Linked DNA regions of Homo sapiens. The protein of the gene in region 1 purifies or fractionates together with the protein of each later gene. This does not show direct contact. Each region holds a gene or a part of one and is shown in the gene's direction. Other genes may lie near its edges.

Region 1 (3,500 bases):
TGTGTGTGTGTGTGAGAGAGAGAGAGTGTGTGTGTGTGTGTTGAAGGTGAAGCCGCTACTTAAAGGCTCAGAATTGAAGGACTTATAATGTAAAAGGGGAATGAAAACAGAGAAAGCCCAGAGGGACAAGTTATTTATTTGTTATAGAAACAAACAGCAAAAACCAGGAAGCTGTACTTACGATATTCCTTAAAGGAATATAGTTTGTGGCACAAAATCCTCTTCCACAGTTAAACAATTTTGTCCAGCACTTGAACCAATTAAAAGTAGCTGTGACTAGGGGAACTATGAGCACAGAGAAAGATGGTCATGGGGAGAGTCTGGGACCCATAAACATTCTATTTCAGGCCATCGAGCGGTGGTTATTAAACCCGTGGTAGAATATGGGAGTGCTACGGACAGAAAACACTCTGGACCTTACTGTATGATAACATTATGTTAAAGAAGAAAAGAAAGTATATTTTTTGATGAAATGTAGTATTTTATATACAGAACTCAGCACTCAAAATAGTAATAACAATTAGACTTATGCCACAACAACATTATATCACAAAATAAACATATGAAAGTGAATGACATCGCAGTAGCCACTGTTCTGAGATTATCTGCTTCACCTGGCTTTGGAAGTTTAGTGATTGTAATAGCTTTCAAATAGCCTTCAATGTCTCGTGCTCTTCTTAAAGTGGAGATGATTCTTTTACTTTAATCACATTCCCCATCGTCAGGGCCTCTGATCTCTTGAGACATGATGTGGTAAATCAAGGATAAGTTAACAACCCATCTTCACATTGGAGGCGCAAGTCACAGGGTCTGTCGGATGTGCAAGGGTCTAACGCCTGAAATCAGACCTCTTTCTACAAGCACGCGCTGACTATTCTATTCCCCACCTAACAGGGTTTTTCATGGACTGATTGGCTTGTGCTTTGGAGCAATGTTTCCTAATCACTAGTTTTGGTCACAGATTCGTTTGACAATGTGATGAGAGCCAAAGACTTTCTCACACAGGGCCATGAACATTTGCTGCACAGTCCTAGGGGATATAAGGACCCTCTAAAACCCATTCATGGACTCTCAGGGATCTAGAGGCCTCAAGTGAGGAGCTCTGCCCTCAGCAGAGGGAGCATTGCAGAGGAAGTTCTGGTTATTACTGACATCAGATTAAGCCCCTAAAGACAGAAATGCTGCTTCTCCAATTGATGGCTGAAATGAGGGTAAGATGGCGGATACAGGTGTAGTTTTATAGCATCAGATCCTTAAAATGAGTAGCATGTGGGGCTAGAGTTGTTTCCCTTCAGATAACATATGATTAATGCTCTAAATCCTTAGTTCTGAATTCTCTCATGTGAAGCCAGGGTTGGTTCCCATTTGGGAAAGCAGTCTCTCAAGATGCCACTTTAATGTCTTACTTATCAGCTCGTGATGCCTTGGGTGGCACAAGAAATGCAGGCAGGGCCGGGCGAGGTGGCTCACACTTGTAATCCCAGCACTTTGGGAGGCCGAGGCAGGCAGATCATCTGAGGTCAGGAGTTCGAAATCAGCCTGGCCAACATGGCAAAGCCCCAGCTCTACTAAAAATACAAAATTAGCTGGGCGTGGTGGCACATGAGCCTGTAATCCTAGCTACTCTGGAGGCTGAGGCAGGAGAATCGCTTGAATCCAGGAGACAGAGGTTTCAGTGAGCCAAGATCGTGTCACTGCACTGCAGTCTGGGCAACAAAGTGAGACTCAGTTTACAAGAAAAAGAAATGCAGGCAGGTTGTAAGCACTGATCTGGCCAACTCTAGAGTGTAGTGAGTAGTGTGGGGTCAGCTGATGCCCCTAAGCAACGTACTGGATACCCAGCCCAGCTGCTTTTAGGGTGAAAGGCATTAGCATTAGCCGGTGGGTAAAGTGCTCCCTTCTGGGTGTAAGATGTAGTTGTCTTATCTGAAGCTGAACATCTGGTTGGGCTTTGATAACTTTGAAGATAGTTCTTTTCCTGTGTAGCCTTTTGATCACAGAAGCCCTGTTGGTCATCTTCCATTAGTGGGTATCTGACCTGCAATTTGGGGAACTGAGTGTTTTCAGCTGAAAGCTCAGGGCTTTGTTCATTTCCTGTCCTCCCAGACTGTGGTATCAGGCAGGGTATGGAGACTTACCCCAAACCCGTCTGTTTAAATTAGCCAACCCTACTGGAAGTGGTAAGATGAGGCCACATTCTCATGTCACGGTCATACAGTGGATTGACACTGGATGAGAAAGAGAAACGCACTTCATCTTCATCCCTCCGGAGAAAAAGAATGTGAAATTGACTAAATACATGGTGAGTCAAGGTTCTCTTGGTGTGGGATAGCATAAAAATTGGAAATCTGTCTTTGAGATAGAAAGGGAAAATCTATAACAAATATGTTCCAGTAATCAGTGTGCCTTCATGTCTATAACCATTTTAATTATTGCACATCCATGACTACATTTCTTGTAAGTTTCAATATCTATTTTAATAATAATATTGCATCATACAGTCACAGCCCTCAAAACACAAATATTCCATGTACACCAAAGGCTGGTAGCAAAGTCTCTACTCCTCTTACCTCCTGGAGATTATTTTCCCCTGCCAGGTCATTATGTCTAGCAACCTAGTTGCCCATGCAGAGAATGGACTGGCACAAATCTCTTCCTTGGCTCTTTTCCTTTCTTTCAGGCAGGACCCCTACTTTTAATTTGTCTTCCCTCCAGGTCCAGCTGTCACCTTCTTGAGAGACTCTAAATATACAACCCTTACTACGAACCTTTTTCTCCCTTTCTTGCATTTTTTTTTCTCAGTTGCCACAAAAAATTCTTCTGGTCTTTGTTCCAGTTTTGAGCTGAAAATGATCCCAACTGTGGTTGAGAAGCATAAGAATGCCTGTAATTATTCCTTCTAACAAGGAAAAGGAAACTCAATATATTTAGAGTCAAATTTAAATGATGTAAAATCAATTACAAAAACCTTTAAGGGGCCTAAAAGTCCCCTTTGGCATACTTTTTCTTGATAAAACCTGATTTTCCTCAAGCTCTACTCTTTGGGCAGTAACTTGCTGAAAATTATATCAATAGTAGTCTTTCTCTGTCTTCTTCATGTGATAAGGAAGTAGGAGAGAGGGTTGGAGGCACGTACAGGAAATAGGAGGGGAAAAGCCAGAAAAACCCTTACTTATTGACAATACCACAATTTCCTATATGTGCCAAAACAATATTGTCACTATATTCCTAAACACAGAATATCCGGCAATATCAGAGAAATATCTATAATAATTTCTACTTTAAAAATATAATAGTAATGGATATTTGTTGTAGCAAATATGTCATATGCCTTTTAGGTTAAATATACTTGTATACATCTTATTTGTAAGTGTTTATGTATTAAAATTGCCATCAGGCTGGGCGCGGTGGCTCATGCCTGTAATCCCAGCACTTTGGGAGGCTGAAGCGGGCGGATCACGAGGTCAGGAGTTCAAGACCAGCCTGGCCAAGATGGTGAA
Region 2 (3,187 bases), on another chromosome or scaffold:
GATTATTTTTAAATATGGAAGCACTGTTTTCATAAACTCTTAAATTGTTAGTAAAGAGGTAGCCTACATTTGTTATAAAATGTAAAGAGAAGATGAAAATGGACTTTTCTTCCAGTTTTACAGCTGTTCTCTTCCGTTGATCCCCACTGGCTCTTCTTTCATTTCAGCCTCTTGGTTCTTTCTTAAAAGAAAACCATGTCTTTTTCCCCTTAGTCCAGAGGTAGACATAGCTGAACAGAAAGCTTAGACATTCCCATTTAGTGTATTTGCTTCTTTGTGAGATTAATTTGTTTCTCTTTCTCTTTCCCTCTTCTCTAGTGTGGATTCTTTAAACGCTCTAGGTACGATGACAGTGTTCCCCGATACCATGCTGTAAGGATCCGGAAAGAAGAGCGAGAGATCAAAGATGAAAAGTATATTGATAACCTTGAAAAAAAACAGTGGATCACAAAGTGGAACGAAAATGAAAGCTACTCATAGCGGGGGCCTAAAAAAAAAAAGCTTCACAGTACCCAAACTGCTTTTTCCAACTCAGAAATTCAATTTGGATTTAAAAGCCTGCTCAATCCCTGAGGACTGATTTCAGAGTGACTACACACAGTACGAACCTACAGTTTTAACTGTGGATATTGTTACGTAGCCTAAGGCTCCTGTTTTGCACAGCCAAATTTAAAACTGTTGGAATGGATTTTTCTTTAACTGCCGTAATTTAACTTTCTGGGTTGCCTTTATTTTTGGCGTGGCTGACTTACATCATGTGTTGGGGAAGGGCCTGCCCAGTTGCACTCAGGTGACATCCTCCAGATAGTGTAGCTGAGGAGGCACCTACACTCACCTGCACTAACAGAGTGGCCGTCCTAACCTCGGGCCTGCTGCGCAGACGTCCATCACGTTAGCTGTCCCACATCACAAGACTATGCCATTGGGGTAGTTGTGTTTCAACGGAAAGTGCTGTCTTAAACTAAATGTGCAATAGAAGGTGATGTTGCCATCCTACCGTCTTTTCCTGTTTCCTAGCTGTGTGAATACCTGCTCACGTCAAATGCATACAAGTTTCATTCTCCCTTTCACTAAAACACACAGGTGCAACAGACTTGAATGCTAGTTATACTTATTTGTATATGGTATTTATTTTTTCTTTTCTTTACAAACCATTTTGTTATTGACTAACAGGCCAAAGAGTCTCCAGTTTACCCTTCAGGTTGGTTTAATCAATCAGAATTAGAGCATGGGAGGTCATCACTTTGACCTAAATTATTTACTGCAAAAAGAAAATCTTTATAAATGTACCAGAGAGAGTTGTTTTAATAACTTATCTATAAACTATAACCTCTCCTTCATGACAGCCTCCACCCCACAACCCAAAAGGTTTAAGAAATAGAATTATAACTGTAAAGATGTTTATTTCAGGCATTGGATATTTTTTACTTTAGAAGCCTGCATAATGTTTCTGGATTTCATACTGTAACATTCAGGAATTCTTGGAGAAAATGGGTTTATTCACTGAACTCTAGTGCGGTTTACTCACTGCTGCAAATACTGTATATTCAGGACTTGAAAGAAATGGTGAATGCCTATGGTGGATCCAAACTGATCCAGTATAAGACTACTGAATCTGCTACCAAAACAGTTAATCAGTGAGTCGATGTTCTATTTTTTGTTTTGTTTCCTCCCCTATCTGTATTCCCAAAAATTACTTTGGGGCTAATTTAACAAGAACTTTAAATTGTGTTTTAATTGTAAAAATGGCAGGGGGTGGAATTATTACTCTATACATTCAACAGAGACTGAATAGATATGAAAGCTGATTTTTTTTAATTACCATGCTTCACAATGTTAAGTTATATGGGGAGCAACAGCAAACAGGTGCTAATTTGTTTTGGATATAGTATAAGCAGTGTCTGTGTTTTGAAAGAATAGAACACAGTTTGTAGTGCCACTGTTGTTTTGGGGGGGCTTTTTTCTTTTCGGAAATCTTAAACCTTAAGATACTAAGGACGTTGTTTTGGTTGTACTTTGGAATTCTTAGTCACAAAATATATTTTGTTTACAAAAATTTCTGTAAAACAGGTTATAACAGTGTTTAAAGTCTCAGTTTCTTGCTTGGGGAACTTGTGTCCCTAATGTGTTTAGATTGCTAGATTGCTAAGGAGCTGATACTTTGACAGTGTTTTTAGACCTGTGTTACTAAAAAAAAGATGAATGTCCTGAAAAGGGTGTTGGGAGGGTGGTTCAACAAAGAAACAAAGATGTTATGGTGTTTAGATTTATGGTTGTTAAAAATGTCATCTCAAGTCAAGTCACTGGTCTGTTTGCATTTGATACATTTTTGTACTAACTAGCATTGTAAAATTATTTCATGATTAGAAATTACCTGTGGATATTTGTATAAAAGTGTGAAATAAATTTTTTATAAAAGTGTTCATTGTTTCGTAACACAGCATTGTATATGTGAAGCAAACTCTAAAATTATAAATGACAACCTGAATTATCTATTTCATCAAACCAAAGTTCAGTGTTTTTATTTTTGGTGTCTCATGTAATCTCAGATCAGCCAAAGATACTAGTGCCAAAGCAATGGGATTCGGGGTTTTTTTCTGTTTTCGCTCTATGTAGGTGATCCTCAAGTCTTTCATTTTCCTTCTTTATGATTAAAAGAAACCTACAGGTATTTAACAACCTACAAATTGGGAGTTGTCTTTGGACTGAATCCTCCTCTTCACTGCCTGTCCTTGTAAGGATAGGGAATTGCTTAGCAATGATAACCTGGCATTAAAAAAAATTCTGACAGCTAAGCTGCTTCCTTCTTAGAATATGTTTTGGATGTGGGAGCAGGCTAGCTGTGACGTGTGTGGCAGAATCAACTAGTCAGAAAATATTTTCTTCAGCAAAAGAAAGATTTTAGATTTGAGTTTTATGAAACTTCTCTAGCTGGATTATCACAACCTAATACAAGAAAATAAAATATATAAATATATAAATATATATAAATATAAATATATAAATATATATAAATATATATATACATATATACGTATATACACACACACACACACACACACACACACATATATATATATAAAATGCCTAGACAATATAGTGTGCCCTGGCCTGAATAAATGTCTGTCTAATATATTAGGTAATAGCTCTCCACTATACTTGGCATTACATAAAATCTTGGCCTTCT

The links. The genes of interacting proteins can lie anywhere in the genome.
Region 2: the proteins of RHOH (region 1) and ITGA6 purify together in Homo sapiens (affinity purification with mass spectrometry, with the first as the bait; one large-scale study listed by BioGRID). This does not show direct contact.

The regions. Positions count from the first base shown.
Region 1 is NC_000004.12:40,203,531-40,207,030, forward strand, and holds part of RHOH (rho-related GTP-binding protein RhoH precursor), read left to right. Parts: intron 1-2,182; exon of another isoform or gene 2,183-2,302; intron 2,303-3,500.
Region 2 is NC_000002.12:172,503,773-172,506,959, forward strand, and holds the end of ITGA6 (integrin alpha-6 isoform b preproprotein), read left to right. Parts: exon of another isoform or gene 1-318; coding exon of another isoform or gene 319-480; 3' UTR 481-2,687; downstream 2,688-3,187. UniProt on the Homo sapiens protein: Integrin alpha-6/beta-1 (ITGA6:ITGB1) is a receptor for laminin on platelets. Integrin alpha-6/beta-1 (ITGA6:ITGB1) is present in oocytes and is involved in sperm-egg fusion.